Homo sapiens: one gene and its partners. The protein of the gene in region 3 purifies or fractionates together with the protein of the main gene of each other region. This does not show direct contact. Each region holds a gene or a part of one and is shown on either strand. Other genes may lie near its edges. The genes, in order: TCTN2, SUSD1, DEFB135, CACNA2D1, ATRNL1, NRP2 and CTBS.

Region 1 (3,500 bases), on a different chromosome or scaffold from region 3:
TTTCTAAACTTATTTTTCTTTTGTTTAGTTTTCTTTTAAGAAATTTCATTTTGTACTATTTTATTTAACATTTATTTGATCTTTCTCTACTGTTTGCATCTTTATAAGCTACCTTGAATCCTTTTTGGGAGAAGGTGAAATTTGTTTATGTACATTGATTCTCTCTCTTTTTTTTTTGAGATGGAGTCTAAGTCTGTCACCAGGCTGGAGTGCAGTGTTGTGATCTCGGCTCACTGCAACCTCCACTTCCTGGGCTTAAGCGATTCTCCTGCCTCAGCCTCCCGAGTAGCTGGGACTACAGGCTCACGCTACCACGCCCAGCTAATTTTGTACTTTTAGTAGAGATGGGGTTTCACCATGTTGGCTGGGATGGTCTTGATCTCCTGACCTTGTGATCCGCCTGCCTCGGCCTCCCAAAGTGCTGGGATTACAGGCGTGAGCCACTGTGCTCGGCACGTGCATTGATTGTCATGACTGCATCTTAAGAAGAAAAAAGGAAGGGTGGCCAGACGCAGTGGCTCCCACACTGTAAGTGCTTTGGGAGGCCAAGGCGGGGGAATTTCTTGAGCCCAGGAGTTCGAGACCAACCTGGGCAACACAGCAGATACTGTCTCTATAAAAAATTTTAAAAAGCTGGGCATGATGGTGCCTGCCTGTAGCCCTAGCTACTAGGGAGGCTGAGGTGGGAGGATCGCTTGAGCGTAGGAGTTTGAGGCTGATGAAGTTTACATCATTTCCAGCTTTTTTTAAAATTTATTTTTATTTTCATTTTTTTTAGAGACACGGTCTCACTCTGTTACCCAGGCTGGAGCTAGAGTGCAGGGGCACGATCCTGGCTTGCTGCAGCCTCAACCTTCCTGGTTCAGGCGATCCTCCTGCCACAGCCTCCATAGTAGCTGGGGCTACTGGCGTGCACCACCACACCTGGCTAGTTTTTACATTTTTTGTAGAGACAGGGTCTCACTATGTTAGCCAGGCTGGTTTTGAACTCCTGGGCCCAGGTGATCCTCCCACCATGGCTTCCTGAAGTACTGGGATTACAGGCAGGAGCCACTGCACCTGGTCTGTTCCCAGCTTTTGATGCTACAGCAAAGATCGTTATGCCCGTGTACATGAATCTTTGGACATGAGAAAATGGTTTTGTGTTCATCTCCGTCTCACATGATGTTAGTGTTCTTAAACCAAAAGAGCTTTCAACTAGATGTGCCGATGTAGAGGGCTCTGCAGTGATGAGTGCTACTGCCATGTCCCCTGTCTCCGGTGGCGAACTCTGACATCTCTTGCCTTTATGGCCACGTGGCATGGAGGGAGAAGCGTTCCAGACTTTAGTAGCAAAAGTCTGTTACCTGGAGACTCCTTTACTGCCGCTTCCCTTATTACATCCCTAACTGTGGTCCTCCTGGTGCTTCTGGAAGTTTAGGATGATAAGACAAGTTTTGACAGCTCCTTTCAGCAGACTACTGTGCCCTCAGTGTACTTGCATGGAAAGGCCTCCATGATGAATGAAGTGAAAAAAGCAAGTGCAGATGGCTGCCTACAGTGTGCTATCTTTTGCATAAAGGAGGCAGAAATGAAAACATTTGCATAAAGAAATTCTGGAAGGATGTTGGAGAAGCTAATAATGTGCTACCAAGTTGGAGGATGATGTGGGAACAGGAAAGGGCTGACAGTGAGGAATTTTTTAATATGCTTTTGATTTTTTGGAACCATGCAAATGTGTTACCCACTTAAAAGTTTTAAATTTTTCTATGGCTTAAAATTCAAAACAAAGCCAAAAAAACCGTATTCAATGATGAAAAAAAAAATCCCCCCAAAACAACAGAAGGGATTCATGATAGCTGTACCATTCAAAGCACTGACTTTTTTCCTTTGAGAAATATGCTTGAGGCCAGGTGGTGGCTCATGCCTGTAATCCCAACACTTTTAGAGGCTGAGGTGAGTGGGCCACTTGAGCCTAGGAGTTCAAGACCAGCCTGGGCAACATGGCAAAACCCTGTCTCTACAAACAAATACTACAATTAGCTGTGCGTGGTAGTCGGTGCCTGTAGCCCCAGCTATGAGGGAGGCTGAGGTCGGGGGATCGCTTGAGCCCAGGAGGTGGAGGCTGCAGTGAGCCAGGATTGCTCCATGTACTCCAGCCTGGTCGACAGAGCAAGACCTTGTCTCTAAAAAAAGACCGGGCGCGGTGGCTCACGCCTGTAATCCCAGCACTTTGGGAGGCTGAGGTGGGCGGATCACGAGGTCAGGAGATCGAGACCATTCTGGCTAACACGGTGAAACCCCGTCTCTACTAAAAATACAAAAAATTAGCCGGGTATGGTGGCGGGTGCCTGGAGTCCCAGCTACTCGAGAGGCTGAGGCAGGAGAATGGCGTGAACTCGGGAGGTGGAGCTTGCAGTGAGCCAAGGTCACACCACTGCACTCCAGCCTGGGTGACAGAGCGAGACTCCATCTAAAAAAAAAAAAAAAAAAAAAAAAAGGAAAATATGCTTCAGTATATTTAGGTAATATTTAATATTTTAGAATACCAAACTTAGAAAATTGAACATCTTTGTATATGAGTGATTGAGTTGTCAGCTCTGACCCCATGAAGGCATGAAAAATTTTTTACTCAGCCAGCCAGCGATTAAAACTAGAAAAAGAATGGAAGCACAGACAGGAGGTATGTGTCATACCCAGTAACAATGAAGCCAGCGAACAATGTAGAAAACATAAATCAACACACAAACATCTATTTGTATAACACATAGTAAAACCCTATTCTGAAGTGTCTCGTGGCTGGGGGTGGTGGCTCATGTACTATGCCTGTAATTCCAGCACTTTGGGAGGCCAAGATGGGAGGATCACTCGAGCCCAGGAGTTTGAGACCAGCATGGACAACATAGTGAGACCCTGTCTTTACAGAAAATATGAACGTTACCTGAGCATGATGGTGCACACCTGTGGTCCCAGCTACTTGAGAGGCTGAGGTGGGAGGATCACTTGAGCCCTGGGAGGTTGAGGCTGCAGTGAGCTGTGATTGTGCCATTTCACACTTCAGCCTGGGCAGCAGAGTGAGACCCTGTCTCAAAAAAAAATCAATAAAGTGCCTTGCTTGTGTCACATGGGTTTGATAACACTGAGGGTCAGACCCTTACCCGTGTAACGTGGTCTGCGATGTGGACCTTCTCCTTGTTCCGGATACCATTGATGTATCATTGACCTTCTGCTATGTTACAGGATAGAACAGATCGTTAGTTGTTCTTTAGATACTTCAGCTATTGTGTCATTACAGTTAACTGTTATGTGGGGTTTAAACAAATAGTTCCTGCATGGTTTTCTAACGTGTACCAAATGCAAAAGTAAAATTCAGCAGAATGAAACTTTTATCTGATAAATGATTGGAGAGAAATCCAAAGCATTACTGTCACTGGATTCTGAGTTAGGAGGCTGAAATGTCGTGTAACATATTCCTCTTCAAAGAGGAAAACAAGTTCGGAAACCTGTAATATCCTGAAGAG
Region 2 (4,070 bases), on a different chromosome or scaffold from region 3:
TTGTCAACTTCAAGGTTTCAAGCAACCATCAAGTCTATTGATTTCATCTCTCCAAATCCATAACAGCACCTCAAATTCAGGATGTCCAAAACAACTAATCATCTTTCTTTCCAAATCTTTCTCCTTCCGTAGAAACATATACCAAGTCACCCAGCCCCCAAGCCTTAGTGTCATCTTTCCCCTTCTGTTCCCTTGCACCTTCATATCTGTTATTAAATCCTTCCTTCCAGTCCATTTCCACCTTACTGTCTACATTCAGTCCGTTTCTGCTGTCATTACTGTGGGCCCAGTCCTCAGAACTTCCAGGCCAGCTATTGCAACAACTTCCTCAATGGGCTTGTCCAAGCCTCCAGTCTTTCCCTACATTGTCGACTGTCAGGAAACCTGCCCTTCATAAAACCAGGTTCTCCAAGGTTGAACATGAAGGGAGAATGTCTAGATAAGGAGAGGGGGCTCAACCAGGAAGCCTTGACTTCTGTTTCCCCAAATTCACCCCCAAAACCTTTAGTTACAGATGACCTTACGTAGCTACTAGCTGTGTTCAGCCATCTTAGTCTAACAATTCAATGGGATCATACTGGACAGTTTCCTACCTTAGAGATATCACAGGAAGATCCTGAAATAGACGCCAAGCATCTGCAAGTCCTATGCGCACTGTTCTCGGAGATAGAGCCAAGGAAGGAATCTTAACCAGGGCACCTAATATTACAAAAATGGCCACTCCAGAAGATCAAGCCATTGAAATACCCATCAGGCATGGTAAAAGTCCCAAGCCAAAGAGAATGGGGGTGGGGGCGGCAGGCAGGATTCTCAACCACAAGTCTCCTTGTATGTCATCACATGGAAATTTCCTTCCACTTCAGGATCAGCGTTTGGTTTTAGTAAGGAAGATGGGGGTTCCTTAGACCCTCTTTCCCCCGCCTCAAGTTTACTTATACAAATAGCAAAGGAGGACATCAGCCCCATGCAGATGGCAGTCCAAGGGGGACAATCCTTCTGTCCTCACGTTGGCAGACACAGATCTCTACTCTGAAGGCTTTGTAGGGGCCTGAGCTCCTTCGGGAGTCTGAGCTGGAACTGAAGCTGGAGCTGCAGCCTGAGCCTTGGTTTGATCCTTGACCTTGGTCTTTGGCTGGCACAGCCTGAGCCCCTTGGCAATGCGGGCACGAGCACGTTTCCCAAGCTTGAGGTGGGCAACGTAGGCAAGAGCTGACACCCTTTGGAATCTTGGGCTTAACCTCCTTGGGGTTTATGAGGGCAAGGCCTCAGCACGTGCACTCATGGCCTTGGCACTGTCGCCCTGCATCTTCTTTAGGCCCCTCTTATTGTGCTTCTTGGCAAACCGCATGTTTGTCAGGAACTTGGGGTCCACCCCTTTAAAAGATTCGTATCTTTGTGATCCGGGTTTCATGATGCCGTTTCTGTGCCATTTTCGGGACTGGTTGTGTGTGGTGTGGTGCTTGGATTTGGCCATGTCTGCACTGTAACCTGTGGCTCCCGAAGCGCCTAGAACTGGCTAGACCCACTTTTCTTGTCACTCCCTGAGACGGCTTCCAGTGGCTTCCAGGCACAGCTAAGTCCAAAGGCCTAGGTCTGCCAATCAAGGCACTCTGCCCTCTGCCTCTGGTGCCTCCGTGTGCTTCCTTCCCTTCTCCCCCGGGCCTGAATTCTGAAGGAATTCATTCATTCTACACTCATTTGTGGAGAGGTGACAGTGCCTTCTGCTATGAGCTGGGATACCTTTTTCACATTTTCCCATATCCAAATATGACCAATCATTGATGGCCCAGCTCAAGGGTCACCACCGATTCCCCTTTCCCTGCCCTCACCACCCACACCTTCTCATGGCACCCATGCCATTCTGCCTTGTATTACAGTTATGTGGATGAATGTCACCTCCCCTGCGTGTCTGAATCCTCTGTGTAATTCCTACTCAGCTCAACACTGCATTTTGCAGAGGAGGAAAAACAACTCCCTCGATTGCTTGGAAATAGAACATTTGCTGGTCTAAATCCTCCAGACAATGAGCTCCACGAGGGCCCGCACTGCCCGCCCTCATCGCGCACAGGGAAGCTGTTCAAGGGCCATCTGTTGAATGAATGAGTGAATTAATGGCTTCACTCCTGTACTCTTCCTTACGCGTCTTTCTCACCATATTTAGCATCCGGCTCTCTAACAACGTGAAAAAATTAAAAGTGGTAAGAAAATTGCTTCGGGTCAAAAATGTGTCATGCAAAAGCCACCGCAGAGCCGGAAGCGTGACAGCGCCGCAGAACGCCCTGGCCTCCCCGCCCTTCCCCGGGCGCCGCCCTGCCCGGGTCCGCGCTCGCGCCCAGCCCCCACCCCGCCTCCTGGGCAGTGGAGGTCCCTGGGGGCCCGGCCAGGCCGCCTTAAAACCGGCGTCCCCCGGCGTCGCGGGGTCGGGCGGGGGCAGGGAAGCCCGGCGGGGAGCCCCCCGCTTCTCTGAGCTCCTCCTTGCCGATCTCCAACGGCCGGCGCGGGCCCCACCTGCGCCCCACGCCTCGGCACCGCGCCGGCCCGGCCCAGGGGCGGGGAAGCGTCCGTGCGCCCAGAGTCCTCGAGGCCCAGCCGGGGGCCCCGCCGGCCGCCCGTGCCCGTCCCAGCCCGCACTCACCGTCGGGGCCCGGCGCTCCCGCGGCGCCGCGGGCCAGGCCGAGCAGCAGCAACAGCGGCAGCAGGCGGCGAGACGGGCCCGCATCCCAGGGCCCCCGGCCCATGCCGCCGCCGGTCCCTCCCGGCGCGCCCGCGCCTCCTCCCGGGGCCCTCAGGGTGCAGAGATAAGGCTACAGGCGCCGCGGGGAGGGGACCAGCCGGCGGCTTCCGGCGCCGCCGAGGGAAGCGGGGGGCGCTGCGGGGTCCCCGGGAGGCCGCAGAGCGCGGGTCCTTCCTCTTGTCGGGGCCTGGGCTTAGGACACGCCCGTTCCGCGTCCGTCTCTGGCTCCGCACTTGCTGCCCTCTCGCCGCTCACATTCGCAAAGGGGGACAGACACTCATCGGATAATGACACAGCTGGACGCAGAGCCCCGGAGAGTGCTGGGGAGGAAATGTTGCGGAGGATTCAAGCCACTCGAGGGCTCAGGGAGGCACCCCCGGGGAGAGGGGTGAGGGGAGCAAGGGGCGGAAATCTTCCAGGACGTGAAAGGGAGCTGGATGAGGTGACCACAGCGCAAGGCCCAGATGAGAGGTCGGAAGACGCAGACCCAGGCCACCCAGGGGCGACACACTTGACCAGGTGACACCTGGTCACCGGGAGTGAGAGAGAGTAGGGCTGTGATGGAGGGAGGGGCTGGCATCAGTCCCCGCTGCTCTGAGGACACCCGGCTTGGGACGCGCTGATGCCAGCCCCTACCTCCATCACAGCCGTACTCATCCCAAGGGAAGGAGTAAACCAAGACCCAAGGATGAGAAGGACGTTGGGGAGGAATCTAAGCGGGAGTTTGTTGTAGAAATGGGGAATGGGGACCTAGAGTGAGAGCAGAGGGTTGGAGAGGGGCGTTGAGCTGCAGAGGGAAGTTAGCCCTCCTAACCCAAGTGATGGAGGTCGCCGGGAAGCTGTCACAGTTTCAAGCAGTGAATGACTTCATCACTGACACATCTCTGTCTGTTCTGTGGAATTGGGATTGGGGTTGGGTTGGGATGTGGAAGGCAAAGAGTCCAGCCCGGAGTTGCTGCAGGAATCAGGCAATAGAAGACATGTCCTGGCCCGGTGCGGTGGCTCACGCCTGTAATCCCAACACTTTGGGAGGTCGAGGCGGGTGGATCACTTGAGGTCAGGAGCTCGATACCAGCCTGGCCAACTTGGTGAAACCCCGTCTCTACTGAAAAAAAAAAAATTAGGTGGGCACGGTGGCAGGCACCTGTAATCCCAGCTACTCGGAAAGCTGAGGCGAGAGAATTGCTTGAACCCAGGAGGCGGAGGTTGAAGTGAGCCGAGCTCGCACCACTGCACTCCGGACTGGGCGACAGAGTGAGACTCCATAGACAGATAGATAGATAGATAGATAGATAGATAGATAGATAGATAGATAGATAGATAGACAGACAGACAG
Region 3 (4,046 bases):
GAAGACGCCAGACACAAAGGAATACCTACAATTCCATTTATATAAAGTTCAAAAATAGATGTCAGCGCCTTCCTATTAAAAGTCAGGCTAGGAATTATTTTGTGTGGAGTAGTGACTGGTAGTGCCTGGGATGTTGTAACATTCTTTTGTGGGGGCAGGATGCTGGTTACACAGGTGTGTTAAATTTGTGCAGTTCATGAGGATGTTTACTCATGATTTGTACATTTTTTAATTGTATGTTATACTTCAAAAAGTTCTTAAGAGACTTTTAAGAAGCGACAAATTAATAAAAAGAAAAATACTCAATACAAGGAATTAGAGTATTTCTGTAAGAGAGACAATAAAGAGAAATACAGCAGACACAGGAACACTGATAGGCTAAAGCCATTGTTTTAATCGAATGGTGCAACTGAGAGGGATCTGGGTTCCCAGAGGAAATCAGCAACAGCTTTCAGGTACTCACAACTATTTCCCAGTCAGTATAGGTAAATATTTTGGGTTTACACAGCACAAATGTATAGTATCACACAAAATACGATATTGTTCGTTTTTTAGACATTTTGGCCGGCAAGTACCTTGCAGTCGCCAACATGAAGCAAAGATTTTTTGTATGTAGACATTGGGTCCACTTCTACCTGCCAAGAGAAACAAAGGTTAATGCACAGTTAGTGTCCTGAAGTGTCATGTTGTCATGGATAAAATTAGACCTCAGACCATAGTTTTCACTTTTTAATAATGAATTAGACGCGATCAAAGATACTCAAGACATTTTATAGCTGGATGCCCCTTTTCAGTTGCTCTTACCTTGTTTTCCAGGGGCCCTATTATAAGCCATTATATGAATCCACAATTAGTTACATGAATTACTGATCAACTGTGTGGAGTTAACAGGACCCAGCATATTCAGCTTGAGACTATTGGCTTCAGAAAGAATATTCAGACATCGAAGTCATCCCAGGAGCCTGCAGAGGTCCCATACCAGGAGGCATGCAGGGTCTGGAATAGCTACCTGAGGCAGTTTGTGATTATCAAAGTGTCAGCATAAAGAAAGAAGGATCACTGAAGTGGAATTTTAGAAGCCTGCACTTCTACCCCTGTATTCCCCAAAAACATTCTGCATGACTTTTTGTCAAGTGCTTAATCACAAGGTACTTAAGAAGTACCCATTCTCCCATGGGTACTTTGCACCCATGGGAGAATGAGTGTGAAATGGTTTGAAATACCTGAGACAAATATGGAAATTTATTGCTAGTAATTTTTCTACACCTTAAGAACTGGGAGCCTCTGGAAACCAGAGGGTGGAGGAGGGGTAATAGGAAGGCAGTTTAAGAGGGTAAGGGTGGCCCTGAGTTGCCCCTACTGTATCACCTGCTCTTGCATGCTAAGTCTTATCAGTTTCTCCACCCAGGTGCCCCCATGAGTCCATGGATTGAACCTTTGTGGTGTGAAAATAATCAATGTGGTATGGTCAAGGGCCGTTAGCAGGCAAACTTGCCCACCATGTGCTCCCTAGACCTCAGGCACTTTTCTGGGGACAAAGGAGTCCAGTAGAGACACACTGCAAAGTGTCGGAGGTCCCACCATGCAGGACATCAGCCATCATCTCAACATGGTCCTCATTCGTATCTGTCTTCGTTTTATTTATTTTTTTTAATTTTTATTTTTGAGATGAAGTTTCACGCTTGTTGCCCAGGCTGGAGTGCAATGGCACCATCTCAGCTCACTGCAATCTCCGCCTCCTGGGTTCAAGTGATCCTCTTTTCTCAGCTTCCCGAGTAGCTGGGACAGGCATGCGCCACCATGCCCGGCTAATTTTGTATTTTTAGTAGAGACGGGTTTTCACCATGTTGGCTAGACTGATCTCGAACTCCTGACCTCAGGTGATCCACTCGACTCAGCCTCCCAAAGTGCTTAGATTGCAGGCGTGAGCCACCGCGCCCAGCCTCATATCTGTCTTTTAAACACTTCACACTTGGTCCTTGAGTGATACGCTTTATATATGAAGGTTTGAGGCAAAGGGTAGGGGCTCTCTGCTGACCCCAGAAAACCACAAGCAAAACAGTTTTGAGAACCTCCACTTTAGTGACTGAAGTAGACTCTTCTCATTATCACCAAGTTGCTGGCTTCTGTCCACAGAATGTAAATTCTGACCTCTCAAACTGATGTTTCATAGGACCTCATCATGCTATAAGTTAGTGTAATACATCTTAACCAGCTGTGTCTGTGGATTCTGCTCAGCATAAAATTTACCTTGGCTTCTAAATGAGTGAAAAATAACATGGGTGGCTGACTGTAGAAGGCAAGTTCTAAGAGCCCTCAAAGAACAGTCTCCTTCTCATCCCCAAGTCCTCGCTATTCTTTGAAAGTCTCATCTTTTTGCTCTGCCCTACTTCTGCCAGTACCAACAGTCCAGCCTTCCCCTCAAACTTCACCAGCTCCTCAAACCAAAATCCATAACCAGTTTCTTTTCTGAAGAGAGCTACCTCCTGTTCTGTGTCCTTTGGATCTTTTCTCCATTCTCTGGACCAGCCCAGCATGTCCATCTCTGCTCACTTTCCTCCCTGTTGCAGCTTCCTTTGTCCAAGTCCTGCCTTTTTCTCACTCTTGTAGAACCTCACACCTTTTTTCCCTTTACTATTCCTAATTCTACAAGGTGGGGACTCCATTTTACCTGGTGGAACATAGAAGAGTAAGTTAAGGACCACGAGGGCCAAGAGGACGCTCCTTGTGGCCATACCAATCAGCAAAGAAGCAGCTGTGACTCATCGGAGAGTCACTCTCTCCGCAGCTTTGAAGAGACGGGGAGCTGCATGGCTAGTGAACCTTTTGGAACAAGAACATCTGCCTGCTCCACTGAGCAATCCAATCAGCAAAATGTCTGTTTGAACATGACATCCCTTCATTAAAGCACACTTCCTGGGTGCCACATGCATGCTAGCAACTGCATGAACACTGTGTAGGCAGCCCTATTCTAGGCCCTGGTAGGGTGCTGTGTAGGTGTCTGTGTATCTTCATTGTACATCCACTAAAATGCCTATAGTGTGCAGAGAACCATAAGGCTGCCTTACATAGTTGACAAAGAGTTTGTTTTTTTTTTCAACCTTACACACACACGAAGTCCAGGTAGGCATGATTCTCTCCATTTTAAAAACAAAAATAAAGAGTCTCAGGTAGAAGAAATGACTTTCTCAAGCTCACATAGATCCTAAATGGTAGCAACATGATTTATAAGCAGGCTTCCCTGACTCCTATATACAGAAGTACTAAAGTATGGCCTTGCCCAGTTCTGGTATAGCTGTAATGTCTTTAGGAAAATAAGAGCTCCTCAAAAACAGCATGGAAAAAGCAAGTCCCCATAACACCCGCAACATGACCCAGGGAAAAACACTGAGTCTATGGCTCCCCATTGAGCATATGCTGTGTGCCGGGTAATGGGGGGGCATACAAAGAATTTATGACAAAAGTCTTGCTTGGAGGGACTAAAGTCGACAGTGTTTGACAGTTTTTGAAGTGTTTTAAGTTTTTCAGCAACTTTATCTGATACTGTATGAAGAACACAAAACCCAGAATCAGAAAGTCTTTCTGGTCTGGACTCTGCATGCAGTAGCTTGACAAGCTTTTAATAAAGCACGTACTTTACCTCACTGACCATCAGTTTTCTCACTTGGAAAGAAGGTTGTACACCTGGCCAGGTGCAGTTGCTCATGCCTATAATTCTAACGTTTTGGGAGGCTGAGGAAGGTGGATTGCTTGAGCTCAGCAGCTCAAGACCAGCCTGGGCAACATGGCAAAACCCCATCTCTACAAAAAATGCAAAAATTAGCCAGGCATGATAGTGAGCGCCTGTACTCCTAGCTACTCAGGAGGCTGAGGTGGGAGAATCACCTGAACCCAGGAGATCAAGGCTGCAGTGAGCCATGATTGCACCACTGCACTCCAGCCTGGGTGACACAGTGAGACTCTGTCTTAAACAACAACAACAACAAAAAATAGGTTGTACTCCATCATTCCCACCTATCAGGAAGGCTTGTCGCAAGGCCAAATGA
Region 4 (4,048 bases), on a different chromosome or scaffold from region 3:
ACCCAAAAATATTTACTAATGATTCCGAGAGAAATTTACATACAGAAGCATAATAATTTGCCTTTATTGACACTACAGTCTTTGCACTCAGTTTTTATAAATTTGAAATTTTCCCCCAAAGATTTGAGATTTGTCCTGATTAAACAGTGCATATGAATTCTTTTCTCGAAAGAAAAGCAAATGGCACATCTTTATGAAAAATATTGCATTTTTTAATTTCATAAAGTTTATTCAGAAATCTAACATGAAGTACAAATGTCAACCATCAGTTCTTTCCTCAGAAGACAGTGTTACTAACTTTTCAAATGAAAAACTGAAGATGCAGAAGGCTTCCAAAAATATTGTTAAGATTACCTACAGGAGATTGACTTCGCTCCACAAAACCTTTTATTAAGTATTTCATTCATTAAATAATCAATGTCTTATATAATTTGAAAATATCTTGAATTTTCATCGTTAAAAAAAATTTCAGATCCTTCCAAAGAAAAGAAATTGTGATGTCCTACTTCCCATTTTAACCCACTATATATACTCTTTCTTGTGTCTAGTAAATTTCTGACCATGAAAATTGATTTACTTATAATTTTAGGAAAGCATTATTGCAGATGTTCTTCTTAACAATAAGGATTTTTACATTAATATTTTACCACAGTATGTTGAGGAATAAAAGGTTGTATTTTGTTGTAGTTTTCCCCAATGGTATGATGATGTATCCCCTCCCATGATAAAAATATTGATAAATTGTCAGTTAAAAACAACACTGTAAAAATGAGTAATCGGAACACATTTAGGAAGTGATTGTTTTTTAAAGAGCCACTTATTTATTTGACACAGAATGCAAGCGACTCATTTGAGTTCTCACTTTACAGGCCAAGCAACAAACAGACTTAAAAAATTAAATGGAAGTGTGATGCCTTAATAAGAGTAAATAATTCTGAAGCATCCTTAGGGTGATTCTTACTCTTTTTATGTTTAAAAATATCTGACTGGAACATCCTGCCAATTAAACGAAGATCTCCAGATGGCATTTACCCTTTTGCTTCATAACAAAAAGGATCTGCAATCAGTTTTATGGAAGATTATCTAAAGAGGAACATTACTGTAACTCAATGACAACAAAAATTAGACACTCCCCTTCTCCGGGATAGAATGTGCATCCTCCAGATTCTTGCACTGACACCTAAGGTAATAAATACTTAAAACTGAATCTTAAATAATAGCCGCAGGATTTCAACCGCTAAAGATTCACTGTTACTTTCCACCAAAAACTCCTGTATTCAGCACTCAGCCAACAAAGGACAGCAAGTAATTCCCAGCAGCATAAATACCGGGAAAGCTACCTTGGGCTTTGTTTTTGTTATGTAAAATGCATTAAAGTGACTCATCCACTTAAGATTACCTACCTTTAGAAGCTTTAAAGAAGCTCCAAGAACCAAAATAAATGCTTTCCCAGAATGCCGGATAGGCTATTCGGTGCATTAAAAAATATGTATATATTTATATGTGCCATTGAGTTTGATTCTATTTTGCTAAGAAAGGAGAGAATTATTATTTTTCATTCCCTTCCTGTGGTGTGACTATAGCTACCTATAAGCCCTCTATTTCCAGAACAGCAGCGAGGTTTTTAAAAGTTATTTTAGAAATGGTAAAAATAAAAGAAAATTTGTAGGAGACTGGAAATAGTCCCTCCTTCAAAGAATAGGCTCTATTCATTTGAAGAACAGGGACCGCGTGTCTGCCGACACTTAGATGTTTCAAATAATGGGTTGGGGAGGTTGGATCGCGTGGTCCCAGTACCTGCGAGCCCCCTGCGTGGACAGCACGCTCGGCCGCGGGGAGCCAGCACGCGTCTAATCGGAAGGCTGTCAAGTGCATCCAGTAACGTGGGATAAAACGAGTTTGGGCACTACAGCAATTAAAGAGCATCTCCGAGGCCAAGTGCGGGGGAAGTCCACGCTACCTCGGCAAGCCTGAAATTACCTGTTTGTAAATTACCCAACCAAAACATAACTTTTTATTGAACTGGGTTGAATCAGAGCGGGTGAGCTGGCTGGAAACTTTTTTCCCCAGTACGGCTGCACTCTGAAGTCTAGAGAATCCCGTTAGAGACGGGCTGAGACGCCGCGAGTCGTCGGCGGGCGCTTCCCGGGACAGTCGGCCCCCAGTGCCCGGCCCCGTGGAGGCGCCCGAGACGCCGGTTCGGGACGCATTCCAGCGGCGAGCGGCGCGCACCGCCTGCCCGGCGTCTCCGCATCCGAGCCTGGCTCCCCGGCCGCTCGCTCCCCACCCCCACGGGCGGAAAAGCCCCGCGACTCGGGAACCGACCCCCACCCCCAACTCCCGCGGCGCCCCTCGGCCGGCGCTCCCTGCCCGGCCCGCCGACTTACGTGACGGCCGAAGGGAACGGCTCCTCCGACGAGGGGCCGATGAGCAAAGATTGGAAAAGTGTCAGAGTCAAGGCCAGCAGGCAGCCAGCAGCCATCTTCGCGATCGAAGATCAATGCCCCCTCCCTGCCCAAGCGGGGGAAGGAGCGGCGCTGGAAACCGCGGGCGGAGGAAGAGCAGCACACGCCGCCGGGACCGCGGGCGTCTGGAGGGCTGGCTGCGCCCGGGGCCCGAGGCGCGGAGCCGCGCGGGGGACGGCAAGGGCGGGAGCGGACGCCGAGGAAGGGGCGGTGGCGGGCGGACCCACTAGCGTGCGTCGGCTGCTCCGCGCCGCGGCCGCCTTGCCTCCGCCGCCATCAAGGGCGACTTTGGAAACAGACCTCGGCGAGCCCGCCGGCGCTCGCGCGCTCTCGCTCTCCCTCTCGGTTTCCTCCCTGATTTATTCCCCCGATTGCCGAGGCGAAGGCGGAGGCGGGGGCGGGGGCGGAGGAGGGGTGACGGCGCTGGAGGGTGGGGGTGGCTGCAGGAATCGGGGAATGGCAGGCAGAGAGACTTGTGGAAGCGAGAGGCTCCGTCTGGCTTCTTAGGCAAGTCAGAGGGAGGCGGCTGGGGGTGGGCAGCGGGAGGGCTGGGCGTCAGAGCAGTCGGGCGGAGACGGGCCGGGAGCAGCCCTCCATACAAGGCAGCCAGGAACTCCCAAAGTCGGCGCCGGCTCGCTCCCGCCGCCCGGCGTGCGCAGGCGGAGCGGACCAGCCCCGCGGGGCTCCCGGGGGACGGCCAGCCGCCCAGCGGGCATCCACAGGCTGCAGAGGCTCCAACCCAGGACTTGGCTCGCGTCTTCGGGGGTTATTTTTGCACATGCAGGCAGCGTTCCCCCCCAGCCCTACTCCCAGGCGCAGAATCCAGTGCCTGCCTGGGAATCGTGAAGTGATTTGACAACAAATGTAGGAGGGGTTTGTATTGCATTTTAAAGCACCACTGTTGACTCTCTACCAGGTGGCACTATATGCCCGCGTGTGCCATAGGTTAGAGCCTCTGCCGGGGCTGGGTGCCCTTTGTGCCAGCGGTCCCACGCCCAGGTACTGCTCGGCTCACCTGGCGAGGACAGAGCCTCAGGGACCGGGCTGTGGACGGACAGAGAAGTACTGACGCTGTAAAATCTTCCCAGCCCTGTGGTTCCATTGGACAGAGGGGTGGAGGGACGAATTCTGCATCTAGGGAGGACAGTAGTAAGAGAAGCGCTTTGCAGCATCCCAGTTGGGACTACCTCCAAAAGGGTCCTAACGCCCTGCTCTGGCCACTGGCCTGCCCTGCCTGACAAGGTTACCGCAGGGTGAGCTCACTTTTGTCAATGCGAAGGCATGAAAAGGGTAAGCAGCAGGAACAGGTGGCACTCTGAGAAATGCGCCTGAAATGTAGAGGAGGAATTAAGGGAGGGGGAGAGAGCTAGGGAGTAGCAATGCCGGACTGGTTTTATCTCCAGACTCAGAGGAAGCAGTGGCGGGCTTTCTCCTTGAAAAGACAGGGTCTGCGACTAGGCCTCTCCCGCCCAACACAGGCCTCCTACAAGAGGGCCCTGGTGGGCCAAAGATAGAAATATATTCTTGCACACCTTAAATTCTTAAGCTCCCTCTAGTAGTGTATGAGAATACTTTTGACATGA
Region 5 (3,068 bases), on a different chromosome or scaffold from region 3:
TCTCGGTGAGACCTTACAGAGGCCTAGCAGAGCAGTGCCACTGAAAGAAGGCTGGGCCCCAGATGGCCACATAAGGACCAAGCCCAGAGCTTACCAGAGAACCTGCAGGCTTTTCCCAGAAGAGTCAGCTATGCCAGAGCTGCCCTGGTCTCAGATAGCTGACTTTTATTCTAAGTAAGAGCAATTTCTATAACACATGTCCTGTGGCGTAGACCCTCATTATAGCTAGATTCTTAGCTGCTGGGCCTTGTGAGTTTTGCCTTTAATTCTCAGGAACATTCCAAGTGCTCAGCAAGCCCCTCACAGAGAACGTACAGGAAAGGTCAATGCAAATCTGGTGAAGAGAAAAAGAGGGGGAAATGTATTTTGAATGTCAAAATTCAATAACAAACTATATAATCACCTCTTCGATGGAGAGGGGCTTTTTCAAGTTCTCAGAGTGCTTTTTCCTGTGTGACCACGAAAGGATAAAACACAAACAAAAACAAAACAAAACTGCATTTGGCAGTGGGGGTTGGAAGAGCCAATGTTTTTATTTAATAAAGTCCTGATTAACAGCATATTATAACATAAAATGTTGGCTTTCTAAAACGGGCTTGAACTTTTACACAATCTTTTGAACACTGGCATGCACACCTGTGTACATATATACTGATAGGAGCTCTGGTTCTAATTCTTAATTTCAAAAAATTTTGATAAAACTAAAATGTTAAATGTACACTCTAATGAAATCACTGCTATAACTAACACCAACCAGATGGCTTGTATTCCTTGGAAAATTCTTTAAAGCATTTTGAATTAGAGTAATAACTTTGTTATTTAGAGAACTCCCTCTAATGGTCGATTAAAGGCAGCACTTTGACCCAATGCAGTGTTTCCCTAATTTGCCTAATGGTAAGAAGCACTGAGGAGCTTGTTAAGAGTACTGCTCTCCAGGGCCTACCCCAGTGTTTCTGAATCTAAATCTCTAGAGGTGAAAGTGGGAATCTGCCTGAACCCAAGCAATTCCTGTAATCAGGTAAGTTTCCAAGCTCACTCTAGTATACGGCAAATGGGTTTTGAAACTCGACATTTAAAAAGACCATAGGTGGGTAGAATTAGTTCATTTGGTCAGTTTTCATTTTACAATCTTTTTTAAATATAAGACACCTTTCAAATCATAGTTTTATGTTCACTGAGAAAAGATGTATCATGTATAACCACAAAATGTAAGCACTGACCCTGTCTTGCCTAGTTTGTACGTGAAAGGTGATCATTGATGCTCTTGTCTCAATGTCATCAGTCAGTAATTTTAAGAAAAACTCTCCTAAAACTATAGATTTAAGAAGAGTTTAAGTCTTTATTGACTAAATGTCAAAGTCGTTTTGTAGAAATCCCTATATCTTAGAAATACAGGAACTTAAGTTATTCAGGGAGTCTTTTTGAAAAACCTGATTGACCTTTACCTACGACCAAAAGATGGATGAAAATTAATAGGTGGATTCATAAAACAACTGGTAGAAAAAGAGTGGCCTGGTGTCCCCACGGTTGTTAATACCAGCTACGCTGCATCAAGGTCCCACTGTGGGAGCTTTCTGTGTGTTACCATCTAGCCTCGCAATGCCTCGAAAGGTGGGCACCATTACCGCCCTTTACAGATGGAAGGCTGAGGCTTCAAAGGTGAAACTTACCCAGCACCACACACCTGAAAGCTGGGTCCAGTGCCCGTTTTCCAGCCTGTGTGCCAGTGTGCACCCTAAATGACCTTATACCATGAACTGTAGCCATACAGTCACCTCTATCTTACTGCAGCTAAAAGAAGATGAGATGTTGGGAAGTACAGCAAGGATCAATTACCTTTTTAAATACGAACTATTTGAAGTTTTCCTACTGAACATAACACTATAGTATACGGCATCTCTGTGTATCACTAAAACAAATTTTCATTTAAAGAATTATGAGAATCCTAATCCTCTTAAAATTTATTAGCTGAATCTGTAAGTATGTGCAAATTCTTTTCCAATAGGAATTTTCTAGTTCAAATAGAATCCCCAGGTTAATTTTTAAAACTCCATTGTATTTAACCATTTTTTTTTCATACTTGGCAGAATAAAACATCCTAAAAATCTAAGGAATTTTTCAAAGTCATTCTAAACTGAAATGTTTAGAATTCCATTAAGGTTAGTTTTCAAGAGGATCAGCCATTTAACTGCGAAATTCTGGGAAAGTATCTGCATATTTGTGTGGTTTGATTTAAAAAAAATGAAAGCATCCAAATTTAAAGTGTCTGGAATGTAGGGGGAAAAACCAACAGATTCAAAGTGATTATCCTTGATCCTTGATGTCTTTTCAATCCACTTCACCTGAGGGCAAAGAATTTACTGCCAGTGAAAAGCTTTGATACGTTGAGAATTAATTGCATAATTAGCCACAGAGTTAGCAATATGTGGCCCAGAAAGGTATAGCATGACTTTAACTAAACATCACATTGTGTCTCATAATTCTCTACAATTTGAATTTTCAAGTTTTAAGAACCCAGTGGGATTTGAGGTGAATAAAACTTGATAATTCTTCCACAGTAATACTATCTGCTTAGCCTCCCTAAAAATATAGCTTATATAGATTTTACATCTAAATCTGTATGTTTTTGTATTTTTATTGTTATGCTTTCTCTTGTGACAATTGTTAGAGAAATACATTGGGCAATCACTTTTTAAAAAATGATTATATCTTTGTAATCATTAGTTTCATCAATTTATTTTTTCATGAGAGAAGTCAATATTTAGAGGGTCCAAAAGAAGCTAATAAAATTACTTGATTGTTTTTAGGAGATATTTACAAACTTAGCTCATTCCTTTAATGAGAGAGAAAATATCACAGGGAAGTAGAAACAACCAGTGGCCTCCCCCTCCAAAAAAACCCCACAGATTATAGATAAAATTACTAAAATTACTCTAAGAATTTGTCTTATTTTTAATGCATGGAAAATAGCAAAATTATCATGCCAACATGAGGAATATATACTATAATTCATAAATGCCTAATTATCAAAATAATGACATAGTCATGGTTAGATGCAACCTAGAAAT
Region 6 (3,500 bases), on a different chromosome or scaffold from region 3:
GAGAAGACCAGAGTGGGAGTTGGGACATTATAGGAGGCAATGCAGGGGGTGCAGATGGGAGATGATGATGGCTGGATTAGCCCCAGAAATTTATGGACAGACCAATCCCCTTTATCTTGTGGGCTCAGCCCAGGGCAGGCAAGTTGCCTCTTTGACCTGGAAGTGTCTTCAGTGTACATCCATCCACGTGCCTTTCCCCTAATCATTCCAGCTCTGACAGGGAGTGCTCCAAGGTCTGACCCTGTTTGAGGTTTCTAGTTAAAACACCTTGTGTTTGTACAGTCTCTGCATCTCCACATGCCTTTCTTGTTTATCATCTTGCCTACACTTTCTAACAACCCTGTGAGGTAAGGTGGGCCAGGGACTGATAAGGAAACCAAGACTCAAAGAGGCTAAATAGCTTGCCCAAAGTCATTCAACTAGGAGGTGACAGAGCCAGGATCTGAACCCACGTTTTCTCAATTCAAATTCTCTGCTCTTACCACATTTACACAAAGACCCATTTTCTTCTAATGGGATCAGTTTATGCTAATCCTGTCTAGGGGACTATTTTCTGTCCCTTCCCTGTTGCTGTTCCAGGATAATCAGCAAAGATTTAGGTAGAGGTCATTCTCTGGAAGATTGAAAGGAGAGAACCAGTGATTTTGAAGAAGGGGAACAACGTGGAGGATCTTTTTTATCCATAGCTCAGTTTGCAAGTATGAAATGCACATTGACTATAGACCCTGCCTTGCCTGACATCATTTATTCATGCATTCTCCACTCAATCATTTGTTCCACACATCTGATGTGCCAGGCACACACTGGGAATGGGACATAGAGACAGGAACAAAATAGATGGGGTCTCTGACATCGTAGAACTTTCAGGCTACTGAGCAAGATAGATAATAAACAAATGCAAGTACTGGATAAACTAGAATGTGCACATGAAGGAAAAGAACAGGGTGCTCTGAGGGAAACCAATTTAGTGAGGATTGAAAATTTGGGAACAGCTTTTCTGTGGATATGACACTTGAGCTTGGGGGTAAGAAAATGTTAGTCTGGGGGTGACTGAAGGGAAAAGCATTTGGGGTAATGGGAACAGCATGTGGGAAGGATCCAAGGCAGTAAAGAGCAGTTATTTGGGAAGTAAAGACCTGATACTGATGCCAGGAAGGTTTCCTTCTACTTGGCAAAACAATTACTAGGAAATAATTCAATGTTTAGCTCAGTTCCCCTGTTCTCAGTGTCCCTGATAGGGTCAGTGGGGACTAGTGTCATCGACAGGGATGTGCAGACACACATTCTGAGAGTCCTTGGTTAGAGCTGTAAGCACAAATAGTTAATGGCCATTGGATACTTAAATATGCCAGGCACCATCCTGTGAGCTCTTAGTAACTAACAGAATCCTTGCAACAGCCCTCAAGAGGTAGGCACCTCTATTAGCTCCCCTTTAGATCTAAGGAAACTGAGGCAAAGAGCAATTAAATAATTTGCCCAAGGCCCTCTGACTAGTAAGTGGCAGAGTGAACATGAACACAGGCAGTCTAGCTCTGAGTCCAGGCTCTTAACCACAGTGCTGTACACATTCACCATGCAAAGAAATTAGTGCTGACTTAGTATTTGACAGTTGGGCTCTTTTGCAGCTCCCTTCTTATAGCGGGTGGTCCCTGGTTAGCAGGTGTCAGCCATGACCTCTTGTATCTTCCTCTCCTCTCTGCAGATGCTCCCTGCTCCAACATGCTGGGGATGCTCTCAGGCCTCATTGCAGACTCCCAGATCTCCGCCTCTTCCACCCAGGAATACCTCTGGAGCCCCAGTGCAGCCCGCCTGGTTAGCAGCCGCTCGGGCTGGTTCCCTCGAATCCCTCAGGCCCAGCCCGGTGAGGAGTGGCTTCAGGTAGATCTGGGAACACCCAAGACAGTGAAAGGTGTCATCATCCAGGGAGCCCGCGGAGGAGACAGTATCACTGCTGTGGAAGCCAGAGCATTTGTGCGCAAGTTCAAAGTCTCCTACAGCCTAAACGGCAAGGACTGGGAATACATTCAGGACCCCAGGACCCAGCAGCCAAAGGTAGGCTGTTCTTGGAGGCCTCTGTAACGTTACCCTCAACAGGGAGGCTAAGTGTGGTACAGGGAGTTGAGACTGATGATGTCCCATCTAAACAGTCGTCATCCAACTCCTGAAATCCAATAAAACAAATATCGTTTGAGAGATTACTTTGTGCCAGGCACTGTGCTAAATACCTTATTTCTGACTCTTTTGTTTGTTTGTTTGTTTGTTTTTGAGATGGAGTCTCTGTCACCCAGGCTGGAGTGCAGTGGCCTGTTCTCGGCTCACTGCAACCTCCGCCTCCAGGGTTCAAGCGATTCTCCAGCCTCAGCCTCCTGAGTGGCTGGGATTACAGGTGCCCGCCACCACACCTAGCTAATTTTTGTATTTCTGGTAGAGATGGGGTTTCACCGTATTGGTCAGGCTGGTCTCGAACTCCTGACCTCAAGTGATCCACTTGCCTTGGCCTCTCAAAGTGCTGGGATTATAGGCATGAACCACCGCGCCCGGCCTGGACTCTTTTTTAATCGTTACAACATCTGTGCAAAGTAGATCTTTTTGTCACTCCCATTTTAGAGATGATAAACTGACACTTGATATCATGCCCAGGGTCACACAGTTCACCTGTGATAGAGCCGATTCAGAAACCGGAAGTCTGACTCCAAAGTCCAGATGCCTAACCCCTACTGAACACTGCCTTTTTATAAAGTTCAACACTCTTTATACACTCTTTCAGATAAAGTTTCCTTGAAATTGGCCAGACATCTAAAGGGGATGTGGTTTTTGGAGGCCAAGCTATAGAAACTAGAGGATGACTTCCAAAAATAACGATGTTTTTCTGAATGTCGCTGCATTCCTTTGTATTCTCCTAGTTTTGACTGCTTAGATCTTTCCGGCCTCTCAGACTGAGGCAAGGGAGAAGCAAGAGAAACTCACCCCGAGCCAGAAGCTCAGGCCAGTACAGCTTACTCCCCTGCCACCAGAGTGAAGGTCAGCCTTCAACACAGACACAAGGAGCCCCAGAAGGGGAGGAGACGTCATACCTCTGTCCCTCCCCAGATCAGTCTCCTGGCAGGCCAGGCTCTCTGATTCTTATCTCTAGTTACCCCTTGTTTTTCTCAAAAGAACAGGTCCCTAAAAAAGGAGGGAGTTTGCATGTCTCGGGGCCACCTTTGCTAAGCAAATGTCTCCATTCTGAATACAGAGGCAAGAGTTGGGTTGGAGGTTTTGCGATGCTGAGGTAAACTCCCAGCTCTCAACTCCAGAGGCTTAGAAAGGCTCAGGGCTTGGTAACTGGAACCTTGCATCGATGGAGCAGAAGTTGGACCGCAGGCTTCCCCATGGAGAGCTGAGCCTGGTTTTTCTTGGGAAAGAAGTTGATCTTTGCCATTGTGGGAGACAGCCCTATCCGAGACAGTGCTTCTGGTTCAGAATTGTGGACGCAGGGCATCCTGAAAACTGGAGCGGTC
Region 7 (3,500 bases), on a different chromosome or scaffold from region 3:
GAGAATTGCTTGAACCTGGGAGGCGGAGGGCGCAGTCAGCCGAGATCGTGCCACTGCACTCCAGCCTGGGCGAAAAGAACAAAACTCCATCTCAAAAAAAAAAAAAAAAAAAAGAAAAAAAAAAAAAGAAGGAGGCTGGGCGCGGTGGCTCACACCTATAATCCCAGCCCTTTGGGAGGCCGAGATGGGCAGATCATGAGGTCAGGAGATCGAGACCATCCTGGCTAACACAGTGAAACCCCGTCTCTATTAAAAAAATACAAAAAAATTAGCCAGGCTTGGTGGCGGGCACCTGTAGTCCCAGCTACTTGGGAGGCTAAGGCAGGAGAATGGCGTGAACCCGGGAGGCGGAGCTTGCAGTGAGCCAAGATCGCGCCACTGCACACCAGCGTGGGCGACATAGTGAGACTCCATCTCAAAAAAAAAAAAAAGAGGAAGGAAACAGTTATAACTAGATTTTTTTCTAAAGTGGCATTAAATGGCCTTCAATGCGCACCAAAATGTTTCCTGAATTCTGAGACCTAAAGAATGTGTTTCTTCATAGAAACAGAGTAAAAAGGTGGTTACCAGAGGCTGGGGGTGGGAAGAATAGATATTTCAAGACACAAATTTTCAATTAGGAACAATAAATACAAGAAATCTACTGTATCCCGTGGTAACTATAGTTAATAACAATGTATTATGTTGAAAATTCCTAAGAGAATGGATTTTAAGTGTTCTTACCATTTAAAAAATGGTATGTGAGGTAATACATATGTTAAATAACTTGATTTAGCCATTTCACAATGTATAGATATATCAAAACATCATCTTCTACACCATAAATACAGATAATTTTTGCCTGCCATTAAACTTTTTTTTTTTTTTGAGACGGAGTCTCGCTCTGTCGCCCAGGCTGGAGTGCAGTGGCGGGATCTCGGCTCACTGCAAGCTCCGCCTCCCGGGTTCACGCCATTCTCCTGCCTCAGCCTCCCAAGTAGCTGGGACTACAGGCGCCCGCCACTACGCCCGGCTAATTTTTTTTGTATTTTTAGTAGAGACGGGGTTTCACCGTTTTAGCCGGGATGGTCTCGATCTCCTGACCTCGTGATCCGCCCGCCTCAGCCTCCCAAAGTGCTGGGATTACAGGCGTGAGCCACCGCGCCCGGCCACTTTTTTTTAATTAAAAAAAAAAAAGAGGCCAAGTGCAGTGGCTCACACCTGTAATCCCAGCATTTTGGGAGGCCAAGGTGGGAGAATCACTTGAGGCCAGGAGTTCAAGACCAGCCTGGGCAATATAGAAAGACCCCGTCTCTACAAAAAGTAAAAAAATCAGCCTGGCATGATGGCACACGCCTATGGTCCTAGCTACTTGGTAGGCTGAGGCAGGAGGATTGCTTGAGCCCAAGAGGTCAAGGCTGCAGTGAGCCATGATTGTGCCACTGCACTCCATCCTGGGTGACAGAGCAAAACCTCGTCTAAAAAAAAAGAAGAATGTGTTCCTGCATTTTCACATTCATTAAGGAAAAAACAAGCCACAGATTACTAAGGTCAGGATTACAAAGAAACAGTATATGGTAGTATATACTGTCCTAAGATTCTATGTTACATATTTTTAAATTACAGGCATACCTCATTTTATTGTACTTTGCTTTATTGTGCTTTGCAGACATTAAATTTTTTGCAAATTGAAGGTTTATGGCAACTCTATTGAACAAGTCTACTGGTGCCATTTTTCCAACAGCAAGTGCTCATTTTGTGTCTGTGTCACATTTTGGCAATTCTTAAAATATTCCAAACTTTTTCATTATTATTATTATATCTGTTATGATGATCTGCAATCAGTGGTCTTTGATGCTACTATTGTAATTGTTTGTGGGCACCATGAACTGCCCATATAAGACTTAATAACAATATTTGGCTAGGCGCGGTAGCTCACGCCTGTAATGCCAACACTTTGGAAGGCCGAGATGGGAGGATCACTTGAAGTCAGGAGTTTCAAACCAGCCTGGCCAACATGGTGAAACCACATCTCTACTAAAAATACAAAAAATTAGCCGGGCATGGTAGGGCATCCCTATAACCCCAGATATTTGGGAGGCTAAGGCACGAGACTCACTTACACCTAGGAGGCAGAGGTTGCAGTGAACTGAGATTGTGCCACTGCACTCCAGCCTGGGTGACGGAGCGATACTCCATCTCAGAAAAAAAAGACTTAATAACGATATTGAAATTAGACTAATAACCTTACAATGGGAATTTTGCAATGAATAAAAAAGAGGAAGAAAATAGTTATAATTAGATTGTTTTCTGAAGTGACATTAAATGGCCTTCAAGGCTCACCAAAATGTTTCCTGAATTCTAAGAGCTTAAACAATGTGTTGGCCAGGTGCAGTGGCCCATGCGTGTAATCCCAGGCCTTTGGGAGGCCAAGGTAGGCGGATCACTTGAGGTCAGGAGTTTGAGACCAGACTGGCCTACATAGTGAAACCCCATCTCTACTAAAAATATAAAAATTAGCCCGGCATAGTGGCGGGCACCTGTAATCCCACCTATGGGGGAAGCTGAGGAGTAGAATTGCTTGAACCCAGGAGGCAGAGGGTGCAGTGAACCCAGAGGGCGCCACTGCACTACAGCCTGGGCGACAGAGCAAGACTCTGTCTCAAAAAAAAAAAAAAAAAGAAAGAAAGAAAGAAAGAAAGAAAGAAAGAAAGGAAAGAAAGAAAGAAAGAGAAACTAGAATCCCTCTTCCCTAAAATGGGTCATAGAAACTAGAGCCTCTTTTCCCCAAAACCAGCCATAAAGTCTAAAAATGTTACTCTAACCTTTCCCACCACCACCTTTCTGTGTAATAGCTGGCCATAAAGAAATTAAGACCCTCATTCCAGAGAGGTCCTACCCCATACCCATGAGAAGAAATCCTTCACAGAGAGGCCAAGAAAAATCTGAACAGACAGTCCTTGCTGAGTTTTCCCACTCAGTCTGTTTGCATTAGCTCATGCCCTTTATTCTGATCACAGTTCTACATAGCTGTCCATACTTCGTTGAACCTAAGCACAAAAATGGACAGTTTTTCCTGTATCTTTGGGTTTTCATTCTGAAACCTCCCATGTCGGGTAAAATTATGATCAAACACATTTTAAAAGGCAGAGACCCCTTTCTTCAAATAAATCTTATATTGGAAGAAGATGATGCCATTTAAGACTTTGCTAGCTAGACAGGAGAAGTCAATACCTGGCTTTAAAGCTCAAAGTACAGGCTGATTCTCTTGTTAGGGACTAATGAGGGTGGTAACTTTAAGTTGAAGCCAGTGTTCATTTACCATTCCAAAAATCCTATGGCACTTAAGAATTATGCTAAATTGACTCTGCCTGTGATCTATAAATGGAATAACAAAGCCTGGCTCACAGCACATCTGTTTACTGAATATCTTAAGCCCACTGCTGAGATGTACTAAGAAAAAAAAGAGATTTCTTTCAAAATATTACTGCTCATTGACAATGCACTTGGTCACCCAAGAG

Evidence for each region.
Region 1: the proteins of DEFB135 (region 3) and TCTN2 purify together in Homo sapiens (affinity purification with mass spectrometry; one large-scale study listed by BioGRID and IntAct). This does not show direct contact.
Region 2: the proteins of DEFB135 (region 3) and SUSD1 purify together in Homo sapiens (affinity purification with mass spectrometry; one large-scale study listed by BioGRID and IntAct). This does not show direct contact.
Region 4: the proteins of DEFB135 (region 3) and CACNA2D1 purify together in Homo sapiens (affinity purification with mass spectrometry; one large-scale study listed by BioGRID and IntAct). This does not show direct contact.
Region 5: the proteins of DEFB135 (region 3) and ATRNL1 purify together in Homo sapiens (affinity purification with mass spectrometry; one large-scale study listed by BioGRID and IntAct). This does not show direct contact.
Region 6: the proteins of DEFB135 (region 3) and NRP2 purify together in Homo sapiens (affinity purification with mass spectrometry; one large-scale study listed by BioGRID and IntAct). This does not show direct contact.
Region 7: the proteins of DEFB135 (region 3) and CTBS purify together in Homo sapiens (affinity purification with mass spectrometry; one large-scale study listed by BioGRID and IntAct). This does not show direct contact.

The regions. Positions count from the first base shown.
Region 1 is NC_000012.12:123,674,113-123,677,612, forward strand, and holds part of TCTN2 (tectonic-2 isoform 1 precursor), read left to right. Parts: intron 1-3,500.
Region 2 is NC_000009.12:112,172,498-112,176,567, forward strand, and holds the start of SUSD1 (sushi domain-containing protein 1 isoform 2 precursor), read right to left. Parts: upstream 2,801-4,070; 5' UTR 2,739-2,800; coding exon 2,636-2,738; intron 1,517-2,635; exon of another isoform or gene 917-1,516; intron 1-916.
Region 3 is NC_000008.11:11,981,010-11,985,055, reverse strand, and holds DEFB135 (beta-defensin 135 precursor), read right to left. Parts: upstream 2,801-4,046; 5' UTR 2,736-2,800; coding exon 2,672-2,735; intron 636-2,671; coding exon 466-635; downstream 1-465. UniProt on the Homo sapiens protein: Has antibacterial activity.
Region 4 is NC_000007.14:82,440,978-82,445,025, forward strand, and holds the start of CACNA2D1 (voltage-dependent calcium channel subunit alpha-2/delta-1 isoform 1 preproprotein), read right to left. Parts: upstream 2,801-4,048; 5' UTR 2,483-2,800; coding exon 2,388-2,482; intron 1-2,387. UniProt on the Homo sapiens protein: The alpha-2/delta subunit of voltage-dependent calcium channels regulates calcium current density and activation/inactivation kinetics of the calcium channel. Plays an important role in excitation-contraction coupling.
Region 5 is NC_000010.11:115,946,432-115,949,499, reverse strand, and holds the end of ATRNL1 (attractin-like protein 1 isoform 1 precursor), read right to left. Parts: 3' UTR 501-3,068; downstream 1-500. UniProt on the Homo sapiens protein: May play a role in melanocortin signaling pathways that regulate energy homeostasis.
Region 6 is NC_000002.12:205,741,501-205,745,000, forward strand, and holds part of NRP2 (neuropilin-2 isoform 2 precursor), read left to right. Parts: intron 1-1,702; coding exon 1,703-2,052; coding exon of another isoform or gene 2,053-2,079; exon of another isoform or gene 2,080-2,198; intron 2,199-3,500.
Region 7 is NC_000001.11:84,557,441-84,560,940, forward strand, and holds part of CTBS (di-N-acetylchitobiase precursor), read right to left. Parts: intron 1-3,500. UniProt on the Homo sapiens protein: Involved in the degradation of asparagine-linked glycoproteins. Hydrolyze of N-acetyl-beta-D-glucosamine (1-4)N-acetylglucosamine chitobiose core from the reducing end of the bond, it requires prior cleavage by glycosylasparaginase.